Linked DNA regions of Homo sapiens. Changing the gene in region 2 together with the main gene of any one other region gives a genetic interaction. Each region holds a gene or a part of one and is shown on either strand. Other genes may lie near its edges.

Region 1 (3,500 bases), on a different chromosome or scaffold from region 2:
GATCCTGAAGAAAGAGAAGAAAAGCAGAAAGATCTGGAGGATCACCGAGATGGTATGCCTGATTATTAGGATTCTGTGTAGCCATTACAGCTTTCTTTCAAAAACAGTAGAAAGAGTAGAAATAGGGCTTAGTTTCTTCTTTCTCTTTTTCTTTCTTTGTTAAATATCACATTGATAGCAGTATAATCAAAATTAACATATTATGGCCAGGTAGGGTGGCTAACTCTGTAATCCTAGCACTTGGGAGGCTAAGGTGGGCAGATTGCTTGAGCCCAGGAGTTCAAGACCAACCTGGGCAACATAGTGAGACCCCATCTCTACTAAAAAGTAAAAAAATGAGACAGGGTGATTGCTTGAGCCCAGGAGGTGTAGGCTGCATTGAGCTGTGATTGTGCCACTGCACAGTCTGGCTGGGTGACAGAGTGAGACCTTGCCTTAAAAAAGAAAAAAAAAAGCATAATACTTGCAACATTATCTTCACTTGAGTATCTTTGTTTCCTTTGGCTAGCAAAGAACGTAATTTTTTGTGTGCTTCACTGGGCATCATTATAATATATAACATTGATATTCACCGTGTACAAGTTGTGTACTAATCACTTCTTATGCACCAGCTCACTTAATCCTCATAATGGCTTCATGAGATGGATGTTATTATCAGATCCATTTTCTTTTTCGAGACGGAGTCTCGCTCTGTCGCCCAGGCTAGAGTACAGTGGCCCCATCTCAGCTTACTGCAAGCTTCGCCTCCTGGGTTCACGCCATTCTCCTGCCTCAGCCTCCCGAGTAGCTGGGACTATAGGCACCTGCCACCACACCCAGCTAATTTTTTGTATTTTTTAGTAGAGACGGGGTTTCACCGTGTTAGCCAGGATGGTCTCTATCTCCTGACCTCGTGATCCACCTGCCTCGGCCTCCCAAAGTGCTAGGATTACAGGCGTGAGCCACTGCGCCCCACCTGTCAGATCCATTTTCTATTTGAGGGGATAGATTTAGAGAGGTTAAGTAACTTATAAGATTACACTATTGGGAAGAAACAGAGTCAATAGTTGGTGTTCTCTACTTGGCAAAGCTCATGCTAAGGCAGCATAGAATAGAATAATTTGGCGGGTGAAATAGCAATTTCTAAGAAGCGTATTTCAAAAAAGAGAAAATAACAAAAAGGTACCTTATTGACCTTATTGATCATCTAGTTCAGCTCCTTCATTTTACAGATGAGTAAACAGACCCAAGAGGTAAAGTGATCACTCTAAGTCACAAAATCAGTTAGTAGCAGAGCTGGGAGTAGAACCTAGGTTTTCTGCTTCCCAGTGCTCTTAAAGCTTTTCATATTTGAATTTGAATTTTGTTTTTGACTGACTGGCATTCCACAGACATGTAAAGTATGTGAGAAGTAAGTAAAACACAAAATAGAGATGATTTCTTAGAAAATCAGCTTTGTTATAGAGACATAATTGGGTAGAGAAAATGAAAGATCAAAAACTTGTTTACTTCCATTCTTTTTTTCCTTTCATATTCTCCTGTTTAGATAAAGAAAGCCGCCCACCTCGGAAATTTCCTTCTGATAAAATTTTTGAAGCCATTTCCTCAATGTTTCCAGATAAGGGCACAGCAGAAGAACTAAAGGAAAAGTAAGAATTTGTTCCTTTGAGGCAATCTTGCCCTGTATGGTATGTAACTCACCATTTTGGTTTATTACAAATGGAATCAATGTAGCGGATGAGCCACTACACTTTGTTTACAGTGTTTGCAAGATACTTGAAGCAACATGTGTACTTGTGGTACTCTGCATTACAAAATATTTCCTGTAGATAGAATAAATACATATGTATAATTTATATATACACATAAACACACACATATACATAAAATTTACAGTAGTACATTTACAGGAAAATTATCTGGATACTGGTAGAAATTTGATGTTTAGTTAAAACTAATATAATATCCTTTTCCATGATATATTTGAATCATATCGATGAATTTGATTCTTGATAACACCATGCACAATATTTAGTTGGCTCTTTATCTAAATAGAGCCATTCCTTTATGTTTTAGGCAAGATAAACATCAAAAGTAACACATGGAAACCTTTTAGAAACTGTTTTCAAAAAAGTGATTTTTGTTTCATGTTTACTTAAATTTTTCTTGGTTAATGTCAGATATAAAGAACTCACCGAACAGCAGCTCCCAGGCGCACTTCCTCCTGAATGTACCCCCAACATAGATGGACCAAATGCTAAATCTGTTCAGAGAGAGCAAAGCTTACACTCCTTTCATACGCTTTTCTGTAGGCGATGTTTTAAATATGACTGCTTCCTACATCGTAAGTGCAATTATTGTACGTTTTCATTTTCTATCTTTGTTGTGGAATTATGTTTTAAAGCAGCTTGGAGAGTGCTATCATTTATTACAACTAGAATTTATCATTTAATCTTGTAGTTACTTTGACAAATATCTTTAGATCTCAGTATTATTATTTTTACTTTGTTGCTTGAGGATTGCTCTGAAATCTTTTGCATGTATTTCATTTGGACTACTATTTTCCACTAACATGGAATTCAGGTCAGTGATTTTTTTTTTTTTCCCCCGTAAGTGCTAACTAAGCAGTTGTTTTACAATAAAACTATTATTATGAACTGGTAGCCCAGAGCAACATTGCTGATATTGATGAATAAATTGTGTTAAATAAGAAATTGGCCAAAAAAATGTTCAGGTAAGTGCTTGTCGATTTAATGTAATTTTATTTTATTTTATTTTATTTTTTTGCCCTCTGGGTAAGTTGTTTTTTAAAAATACCTGCATTTGAATACAAGTAAAACGTAAAATGTTCTTAGTGAAAATGTAAGTATGGTATATACAAAAATACTTTTTTCCTCTGGCATTTCTAGGGAATGTGGTTTCTTAGTAAATTTTCCTGGTAATTGAAACTTCTAAGCACAGTTTAAAAGCGTCAACTACTTTTGAGGCACATATTTTGAAAATGTATTTAATACTTCCTAATTTTCCTAGAGTAGTTTGCTTATTATAGTTTGGTTTTTCCTATATTGTATTTTAGTACGTCTGTCTATGGCATGGTAATTTCTTTAGGGGCTTTGACCCATTGTAAAATCGTTTTCCCCTGTACTCAACGGCCCCACATTGCTTTGTTGTTTTGAGTTCCTGTGCCTACCATTGACAGATTTATTCCTCCTCGTTCACCAATGATAACGTCTTTTTAAGCTTGCCCAAGCAGCTGTACCTCACCTCCTCCTAAGTGTTTGCTCTACTTGTTTTTGCTGCAGCTAATAATGTGTTGAGTGATGTAATACATTGGTCTGGAAATGTTAAGTTTTGTTTTTGTGTGTGACATATTAGTGGTTTAGTTATCTTAAAATAGAAAAACTTGAAGTAGATTTTTAGAATTATCATTATATTGTTACCTCCTTGCTCTTGTTCTAACTCCTCATCTAGTTTAAATTGATTTGGTAGTTTTAAAAATTCGTAGTAAGTCATCCATTTGT
Region 2 (4,171 bases):
ACTGTTGTGAACACTGCTCAGACCCAAGCCTCGCCAGCCAGGGGCAGCATTTCTGGGCAGGTTCTTGGGCGACACGGGGGCAGTGCATGCTCCTGTGGATGTATCCTTACGGCTGGGTGGCGTCTGCCTGCCTCCGCCGACGTGCTTGTGTGCCGCGGGGACTTACCACTTTCTACCTGCATCCCCGGGCCTGCAGGTCTCAGGTTCCCTGGCCACCCCACCCAGCTGCACCTGCTCAGTGTCCTTCCTGGGTGTGGCCGCACCCCCCCTCCTGTGTCCTCGCCAGGCGGGACCCCGTTTCTTCCACAAGGCTGAGCAGAGTCTCGGTGGGGCGCACGCTCAAAAGGAGACATCTCAGCCACCACAGTGGGGAGCGGGCAACTCTGACCAGTGCCGGCCTGCAGCCTACATGCGGCTGAGGAGGCTGCGGTGGGAATTGCTGGGACTCAGGACGCCTGGGCAGAGGTTGAGGGGCCGCGCGTGGCGGGGAAGCCTTCATGTAGCCTCTCCCAGTGTCCGGGCTGGTGCTTGGGGAACAAGCCTGAGGGCCACAGGCTAATTTCCCAGCCGGGGCAGCCCCACCCCCGAAGGCCAAGCCCGAGGGTCTTCAGGTTCCGGGCTGAGCCTGTGTGCTTTCTCGCTGCAGGTCCTGAACGAGGCTGTGGGGGCCCTGATGTACCACACCATCACTCTCACCAGGGAGGACCTGGAGAAGTTCAAAGCCCTCCGCATCATCGTCCGGATTGGCAGTGGTTTTGACAACATCGACATCAAGTCGGCCGGGGATTTAGGTAGGCCGGCTCCGAGTTCTCTCCTGTGCCCATTCATGCAAGCTCCGTCCCGTCTTGCTTCGTCCATGGAGGCTTCACTGCCACACTGAGGACCCCGTTGCACATTGCCTGGTGTGGCTGGCGGTGGTTCGTGGTCCCGTCTGGGGCCGGCATGAGGTTGCAGCCATTCAGTTCCTCACAGAGCCTCATCTCAGGGCACTTCCTCTCTTTTGGGCAGCAGGAAATCCAGCTGTGGCTTCACACAGGTCTGCATGCATGTCTGGCTGGTGCCCCTTGCTTGGGTACTGGGACCCTGGGGGTGAGGGCAGGGCCGTCAGTGTATGGCTGTAATAGGGCTCATAGGTCTCTGTCCCGAGACACAGCGGGAACAGCAGCGTGTTGCAACCCAGTACGTGTGCACTCAGCACACAGAACACACACGTCTGCACCTGTGCACTCAGCACATGGATCACGCACACTCAGCACACAGAACACACACGGAACACGCACATCTGCATCCGTGCATGTGCACTCAGCACATGGAACACGCACACTCATCTGCACCCATGCACATGCAGTTAGCACACGGATCTTGCACACTCATCTGCACCCGTGCACATGCACTCAGCACACGGATCACGCACACTCAGCACACAGAACACGCACATCTGCAGCCATGCATGTGCACTCAGCACATGGAACACGCACACTCATCTGCACCCGTGCACATGCACTCAGCACACGGATCCTGCACACTCATCTGCACCCGTGCACACGCACTCAGCACACGGATCACGCACACTCAGCACACAGAACACACACAGAACACGCACATCTGCAGCCGTGCATGTGCACTCAGCACATGGAACACACACACTCATCTGCACCCGTGCACATGCACTCAGCACACGGATCACGCACACTCATCTGCACCTGTGCACACGCACTCAGCACATGGATCACATGCTCATCACACAGAACACATGCACCTCTGCTTGTGCACTCAGCATATGGAACACTCATGGAACACGCACGTCTGCACCCGTGCACCTACACGCACATGGAACATGCACATGTGTCTGCATCCATGTACAGACACTCATTAGAACAAACTTGGGGCGGTGCTTGGCCGTCCTGCTTGGAGCGCACTTTCTGTTTTCTGCCAGGCTCGGTCTGTTTTTTCTCCTCCTCTCGATGCTGGTAACAGGCGAGGTTGTACCCTGCCCTTGCCCACAGTTGGCCAGCGCCTCACGGTTTTGCTTCCCTTTTCCTAGGATACAGTTTATGGCATTGCAAAGTTGGAACCGTCTGTGTTCCTGCGGGGGACGCAGGTGGTGTCGGAAGCCATGCCTCCATCTGGGGGTCTCCTGCACTGGCTTCAGCTGCTTCCGCCGGCGCCCATGGGCCAAACCTGTGTGCCAGCCTCCTCCCGCCTTTGTCTCTGTGGTGGCGTCCCAGGAAGGGCCGGCTGCGGTGTCGGGTGCAGGCCTGGGTGTGTGGTGTCGGGTGCATGCCTGGTGCTTTTTGAGGGGTCCCTGCTGTTTACCATCTCTGTTACCCGTGGAGTTTCCCAGGCCTGGGCTCTGTTCTTCAGCCAGGGATGGTCTGGGGCACCCCTGGGATCTGGCCCACCCTCAGGAGGTCTTTGTTCCAATCTCGTGTGGCGCCTGGCTTGGCTCTCCCTCAGTCTCCCTTGTTTAACATTTTTACGTCCAAGTGAGTTGTGTCTAGGGGCTATGCAGCCCCTGCCTGCGCCGCCCCACATCAGGCCCTCTCCCGGCCCCCGGGACCCCTTGCGGAACCACACGGTCCTGTCCAGCTTCCGGGCCTATGAATGCAGCCCTGTCCTGGCCTCCTGCCCCCTCCTCCTCCCCAGGGAGACGGATGGCCAGTCGGACACAGGAATGCAATCATCCGGATGGGGTGGGAAGTGCCGTGCAGGGGCGGCCCTGGCCAGGGACAAGCCAGGGATGAGGGTAAATAGGCTCAGGGAGGGGCACTGGCTGGGGAAGGGCCTGTCTCTGGGGACAAGGCCGGGAGCGGGGAGTAGGGGTCACACATGGGCGTGCCTGGCCACTCGGGAGAAATGGGATGGACTTGCTTTCCAGGAATGGCTCCAGCTTCAGTGTTACCGACTGCAGGGGTGGGGCATGGAGGGCGGAAGGGGCTTCGGGGCCCGGCTGGGCCTGGGGGAGGCCTGAGGACATGTGCGGATGTCCACGTAGGGGTGTGCAGGCGGGGCCGGCACCCAGATTCTGACCTGGCCACAGCCTCCCAGCAGGGTACCCCCGAGAGGAATCGGGGTGGCGAGGTGACGCGGGGAGACACGTGCTTGTCTCTTCCTGGGCTGCCAGCGCTGAGTCGGGAGGGGTCAGGGCAGCGTCTCACACCCCAGCCCTACCACACACCGAGCAGTTGCCGTGTGTGTGCTGCCACGTGAACCTAAAGTGGAGGTGGGGCTCCTGGAGTTGCTCTGTTGCGCCCGACCTGTGAGCAACGTGTTCATCTCGTGGCCTCCCGGGGTGGCCTTGGGGACACGGCCTTTGGCTTCTTCCTTGGGAAGCTTCAAACCCGCTCCAGTCACGGCGGCCCCGGTGTCCTCCCGGAGGCTGGGCCCGGCCCGGGGGTGACCGCCGTGTCCTTGTCCCCACAGGCATTGCCGTCTGCAACGTGCCCGCGGCGTCTGTGGAGGAGACGGCCGACTCGACGCTGTGCCACATCCTGAACCTGTACCGGCGGGCCACCTGGCTGCACCAGGCGCTGCGGGAGGGCACACGAGTCCAGAGCGTCGAGCAGATCCGCGAGGTGGCGTCCGGCGCTGCCAGGATCCGCGGGGAGACCTTGGGCATCATCGGACTTGGTGCGTCGGCCGCAGCTCCACGCCTGTGTCCCTCCCTGTGTCTGGCGCTGCCGCTCTTCAGCTGTGCCCAGGAGGAGAGGCCCGGGGCGGGGTGGGGCTGCTGCAGGTGTCGGTCCCAACCCAGGACAGGACTGAGTGCGCACAGGCACCAGGGCCCGGGAGTCCCAGGCGTGTGCCCTACGTGCACGGACGTCACAGCACACGTGGGTCTCACACAGGCACACACAGATAACGTACACGGATGCCACAGCACACACAGCCTCACACAGACATCACAGCACGTGGGTCTCATGGGCACATGCAGATAACACACACGGACGTCACAGCACTCACATGGGCTTCATGGGCACATAGATAACACACGGATGTCACAGTACACAGCCTCACACAGAAATCAGAGCACACATGTGGGCCTCACACAGACATCATGGCACACACAGACATCACACACCGATGTCACAGTACACATACTGGCCTGCACGGATGTCATAGATGCCACAGCACACATGTGGGCCTCACAGACATCACAGTATACATGACC
Region 3 (3,500 bases), on a different chromosome or scaffold from region 2:
ACATTTTTTTTGTTGTTGTTTCTCCAGTTTATTGAAGACTTTAAAGGGTGAGGGAAAATTGAAATAGAAGTTGGGCAAATATAGATTTGCCCTTTACCCAGCAATAACGTACGTAAAGTGGGAGTGAATAGTCTTGAGTGAGTCTCTCCTATTCAGAGAGTGAGCTGGGCAGAGAAAAGTTGGTTGAAGAAGAACAGGGTGGTAGTCTAGGGGGACTGAAGATGGAGGTCCAAGAAAAAAGTGTGTAGCGATGAGTTTAAATCATTTTTGTGTGATCCCAATGTAATTTTATGAATTGCAGGGGAAAACAATGAATTAATTTTAAGGTCAATATGTTTTAGTTCAAGATATTGAAAAAGCTTTCTAATTACTTTTTATTTCATAGTTTTTTTTCTAATAGAAGCATTCTATTACAAAAAGGAAGGTGGTAATCTTTTTTCACCTTTTAGGACAGCCTCCTAATGTTTGTGATGTATTTAAATCTTTTGTGTATTTTCAATCTATGTTAAGTCCCCTTGTTACATATTCCAGTTATACTTATTCCAGTTGTAATTTACTTTGTAATTATTTATTGTCTATCTCTCTTCCCAGAATGTAAGTTCTGTGAGGGTCAGGGGTCTCTTTCCGCTTCTCCACTGTATCCCCAGTGCCTGGCTTAGTGCCTTCTATATAGTAGATTGCCAATGTTTGTTTGTTGATTGAATGAATGAATCTTAGGATTGGTACTTTAAAAAATGCTAAGAATACAATTAAATAAATCAAGAAGTTTAAGTAAATTAGAGTGTACAAATAATGATGTTATTATAGTAGTATTTCTTGTTTTGATTTAGTACATAAAACTTAGAATTCTTATTCATAGATACAGGTCATTAATTGAGACTATTTTTAGTGAAAATACCAACAAGCAATAAATTGTCTAAAATTGCAAGTTAAGTTTTTAATTATATTTACATATAAACTATCTCAGAGTATGATTATATAATTTGACCACTATGAAAGTAACTGAAACCTGGTTTGGCTAAGGGTGGTTATTTTACATTAAGTATAATATAAATTAATTGAGATGTTATACATCAAATCCCAGATAAGCTATGATTTTTTTGTTGTTGTTAGCCTGAAGGAGAGGCAAGAGATTGCCACAACTCTAAATACCTCAGATAACATCAGGCCATCTGTTGCTTTTTAATGCAGATATTTTAGCATCAAAAAGCAATGGGAAATGTAGAAATGGGAAAAACACTGAAGGCAGTTTTGTTCTTGCAGTCTGTCAGATTTTCTCCTTTTCCCAGGGTAGGGATCGAGGTTCTGAATAAGCCATTTCATTTTATAATAAAAAGCAAAACTCCCTCACACATGCTGGTTATTCTAGAAAAATTTATATATATATCACTAGGGACTTAACTAAGAATGTGATTTTTTATCTTTTTAAGGGAGAGTCTCACTCTGTTGCTCAGGTTGGAGTGCAGGCATGTGATCATAGCTCACCGAAGCCTCAACCTCCTGAGCTCAAGTGATCCTCTTGCCTTAACCTCCCAAGTAGCTAGGACCACAGGTGGGCATGACCACACCTGGCTAAGTTTTAAAATTTTTCTGTAGAGATAGTGTCTCACTATGTTGGCCAGACTGGTCTCAGATGCCTGGGCTCAAGCAGTCCTCCTGCCTCAACCTCCCAAAGTGCTGTATGATTGTTTTAAATAGGAAAAAATTTAGAATTTTATAATATCAAGGCACTTAATTTTTAGTTAGTGATATACCATCCAAAAGGCATCTGAGGCTGGGCACGTTGGTTCATGCCTATAATCCCAGCACTTTGGGAGGCCAAGGCAGGAGGATCGCTTGATCCCAGGAGTTCAAGACCAGCCTGGGCAATGTAACAAGATCCCATCTCTAAAAAAATAATGATTAAAAAAATAGAGACAAAAGGCATCTGAAACATAGGAACCTAATTAAAACATTATATGTATATACATATTTTCATTAAGCGTATGTGTTAAAATATCATCTAGACCAATGTTTTAAGGGATTGTTTTTCTAAATATATTAATAAAACTATTAAAAGGCCAAAAAGCTGTCCTAACTTATGACTTTTTTTTGAACCTAAATTTAGATGCCCCTCAAGGGATGTATTATTAGTAACAATCATTCTTGGTAGTGTTGCCCTTAGTCATATGTTGTCCTCTGAGATTGTGTATTCTTGAATAGATAACAAGTGTATTTACAAATCTTCTTTGCCAGTTTCAAACAAAGTTTCTTAAAATTTCCTAGTACGGACTCCAGAATTCCTCAGCAGCATCCTTTCATCAACCTACCCAACCTGTAGCTAAGAATACCTCCATGAGCCCTCGACAGCGCCGGGCCCAGCAGCAGAGTCAGAGAAGGTTGTCTACTTCACCAGATGTAATCCAGGGCCACCAGCCAAGAGACAACCACACTGATCATGGTGGGTCAGCTGTACTGATTGTCATCCTGACTTTGGCATTGGCAGCTCTTATATTCCGACGAATATATCTGGCAAACGAATACATATTTGACTTTGAGTTATAATATGGTTTTGTGACTTATGAGCTGTGACTCAACTGCTTCATTAAACATTCTGCATTGGGTATAATCTAAGAATTGTTTACAAAAAGATTATTTTGTATTTACCCTTCATTCCTTTTTTTGATCCTTGTAAGTTTAGTATAAATATATCTAGACATTCAGACTGTGTCTAGCAGTTACGTCCTGCTTAAAGGGACTAGAAGTCAAAGTTCCTTGTCTCACTATTTGATCTGCTTTGCAGGGAAATAACTTGTTTTTTCTCATGTTTCATCTTCTTTTTATGTAAATTTGTAATACTTTCCTATATTGCCCTTTGAAATTTTTGGATAAAAGATGATGTTTTAAGTTCCAATGAGTATTACTAGTTACTCAATACCACTTATTGAGTACTCTGTTTCTACGTATGTAGAATGTATAGGGATAGAAGAGTTGAAAAGGGAAAGCAAAACTCCTCAAGTAGCTTCCTTAAAATGTCATTCATAGGAGATGTACTGGAATTGCTCATTCTGTGACTTTATTTGTGTCCTAAACATTCTTCAGTGAAAATAATTTTATTTCAGTCAAACATTTATGAGGAAATGAGATCACATCTTTGTCACTGGATGCTACTTGAAGAGGGAGTACTTTGTAACCACTTTGATATGCTGTTATCACCACCCCCTGCCCTCTGCTGCCATAATCACACAAATTTAAAAAGAAAGAAAACAGTCTTCCATAGATTTTTAAGGAAGAAAGGGCCCAAGCCAGGAGATCGCTTGGTTTTCTTCCAGAAGTTAAATGGGGGGATCTGAAGATTTGAATGTTTGGTCTGCTTTGAAATGTATGTCTTTTGGGATGTATTATATGCCTAGCTTTATAATCAGTATAAATTTTAATTATTCCAGGAATATGCATAATATTGAAATATTTCATGTCCTATTTTAATAGAAAACCTCAGGGCCCAAGTAACAGTGATAGAA
Region 4 (2,299 bases), on a different chromosome or scaffold from region 2:
CGTCCACCTCCCGGTGCAGGCGGGTGGGAGGACCCTGGAGAAGGAGGCGGCACCTACCTAGGCCACATCACTGCTCAGCCTGACCATAAGACTGTAAACAAAGTGTGGGCCGCAGCCCGGCGGGGCTGGAGAATAGGAACCCAGGCCTGGCAAGAGACGAGACCAGGGTGACCAACCCAAGCAGCCGCCACCAAGAGCAGCGGCTGACACACGCCACGCCCCAACCGGGCGCCTCACACCCCCCTGCCAGTCTCAGACACGCCAGGGTTTGGTGGTGAGTGGGTCAAGAACCCACACATGCGGCAACCTCGGCCCAAGGCCTGGGCGTGGGGGCAGGGGAACCACAGCCATGCGAGGTGGGTGGGCGGGCACCTCGGCCGAACACAGCTCCCACACCCCGGCCTCCACCAGGCCTAGAGGAAGCGTGTTCACAGGCACCCCGGAAGCCCGTGGCCACCTGCAGACAGGTGCCCCATGTTCTCAAACCCTGCTTGTGAATGACCCCTGGTGCTGGAGGAGCTGACCGTAGTTGGAGCCCTGCCCACTGAGGCCACCGCGTTGGTCCTGAGCAAGGCTGCTGTGACTCCTGGCTCAGTGCAGGGCGAGAACTACTGACATGCAGACCTTGACCCATGCTGACCCCGCCCCCCCACAAGCTCCTGCCCCGGAAGCACATGCGCTGCCTGCAGATCACGTCCAGGCAGACCCAAGCCACGACAGCCATCCAGTCCAGGGTGAAGCCCACGTCCAGGCCACGCCTACTACAGACCCAGCTTCTGCCCCAAGCGGGGTCTGGACCCAGCAGGAGGCTGATGACGCCAGAAACTGGAACCCACCAAGGGGCCAGTGCACCCGGGACCCACACCGAGGGCCTGAACCTCTAGACAGTGATCACAGCTGCCTGCGACTCACTTCCCTCGACCCAGTCGCCACTCAGGTTCCCACACATGCAGGCCCTGCAGCACCTGCTGTATGACGAGTGCTCTGCTGCGACAAGACTCCCACGCTCCCTTCTGCTGGACCCGAGTTGCCACGAGATCTCTCCAACAACCCCCACACCCCCCTCTCCTCCCTCTCCCCTTTCCCACCAGGTAAAGGCTGGGGAGCGTCCAGCAGGGGAGGAAGCAGAAGAAGGCAGGCCGTGCCCAGGGTCCTGGGGCCAGCGGGGACGCGGCATGGCAGGAGACCACTTACCATACTGACCATAGGGGAAGTCTGGCTGAGCTGTCGGGGGCTTGCTCATGTCCGGGGCAGCCTGAGACGGAGGCGGTGGGAAAGCCAGAGGTGCTGCCCCGGGAGTGGCTGGTGGAGGAGGAACCCCCGGAGGGGCAAACTGATCTGGCGGTGGAGGTGGAGGCCCGTAGCCAAAACCTGCAGAGGTACAAGAGGGCAAGGCACAAGACACGTTGTGCAGCTGGGGGCAGACCAGCAGGAGACCCACACCCAGCCCAGCAGGAGCTGCCCAGACGGGACTGCCACCCAAACCCACAGAACGCCCAGGCCTTGTGGACATCCACAGAATGGACCACAGAGCCACGGTCCCGGGCCGCTCCCCCCAGGAAACACACACTCCTGGGAGCGTGGCGGGATGCTGAGCTGCAGCAGGGCCACCTCGTTCCTCACGGAGCAGCCGCCAGGTGGGCCTCAGACAAGAACTCAAGGAGCAAGTAACCTCACAGCAAAATTGCTCTTTCAGAAGGACAAAAACCTGCCACCATGCCCAGTCCCCATGTTTAGGAAGCTGCCAGCACAGGCAAGGGAGCATCCTGACGTGCTTGGAAGGGACTGTCATGCTGGAGGTGCTGCCGCCCTTGCCCTCTGTTGCTGGATATCAGGCAGGCCGAGGTTCCACCCAACTCCCCTCCTGTCAGTCATCTGGCCCACAGGCCTCCGTGTGCAGAGCCTGATCCAGGCCAGAGGATGGAACTGCCTGCTCCTGTACCACGGCCACGTGGAGCCTCCAAACCCCCGAGACGGGACTAGCTCACACTGTGATATGCCCCAATTGTCAAACACCCCCAGGGCCCAGGGCCCGCAGGTGAAATCAGATCACGGTGCCGTTCCTGCTGGCTGCGTGCTGTGAGGTGCAATCCCTGGCTAGGCAGGTAAGGGACGCAAGGCTCCCAGAAAGGACACCCCACGTATGGCCCATGTCCCTTCTTCTCTACTGGAGGGTGCCAAGACCTCACCCTGGGGGCCCCGTCTAAAATTCTGGATGCGCTGAGGTCAGGAGTTCAAGACCAGCCTGACCAACATAGTGAAACCTGTTCTCTACTAAAAATACAAAATTAGCCGGGCG

Evidence for each region.
Region 1: changes in CTBP1 (region 2) and EZH2 together harm fitness less than expected from each alone (positive genetic interaction), as found in Homo sapiens cells (one large-scale study listed by BioGRID).
Region 3: changes in CTBP1 (region 2) and UBE2J1 together harm fitness less than expected from each alone (positive genetic interaction), as found in Homo sapiens cells (one large-scale study listed by BioGRID).
Region 4: changes in CTBP1 (region 2) and DAZAP1 together harm fitness more than expected from each alone (negative genetic interaction), as found in Homo sapiens cells (one large-scale study listed by BioGRID).

Annotation. Positions count from the first base shown.
Region 1 is NC_000007.14:148,825,292-148,828,791, reverse strand, and holds part of EZH2 (histone-lysine N-methyltransferase EZH2), read left to right. Parts: coding exon 1-52; intron 53-1,525; coding exon 1,526-1,628; intron 1,629-2,159; coding exon 2,160-2,338; intron 2,339-3,500. UniProt on the Homo sapiens protein: Polycomb group (PcG) protein. Catalytic subunit of the PRC2/EED-EZH2 complex, which methylates 'Lys-9' (H3K9me) and 'Lys-27' (H3K27me) of histone H3, leading to transcriptional repression of the affected target gene.
Region 2 is NC_000004.12:1,224,819-1,228,989, reverse strand, and holds part of CTBP1 (C-terminal-binding protein 1), read left to right. Parts: intron 1-646; coding exon 647-791; intron 792-3,423; coding exon 3,424-3,630; intron 3,631-4,171. UniProt on the Homo sapiens protein: Corepressor targeting diverse transcription regulators such as GLIS2 or BCL6. Has dehydrogenase activity. Involved in controlling the equilibrium between tubular and stacked structures in the Golgi complex.
Region 3 is NC_000006.12:89,328,723-89,332,222, reverse strand, and holds part of UBE2J1 (ubiquitin-conjugating enzyme E2 J1), read left to right. Parts: intron 1-2,235; coding exon of another isoform or gene 2,236-2,265; coding exon 2,266-2,544; 3' UTR 2,545-3,500. UniProt on the Homo sapiens protein: Catalyzes the covalent attachment of ubiquitin to other proteins. Functions in the selective degradation of misfolded membrane proteins from the endoplasmic reticulum (ERAD) and is essential for cells to recover from ER stress.
Region 4 is NC_000019.10:1,431,586-1,433,884, reverse strand, and holds part of DAZAP1 (DAZ-associated protein 1), read right to left. Parts: intron 1,372-2,299; coding exon 1,195-1,371; intron 147-1,194; coding exon of another isoform or gene 58-146; intron 1-57. UniProt on the Homo sapiens protein: RNA-binding protein, which may be required during spermatogenesis.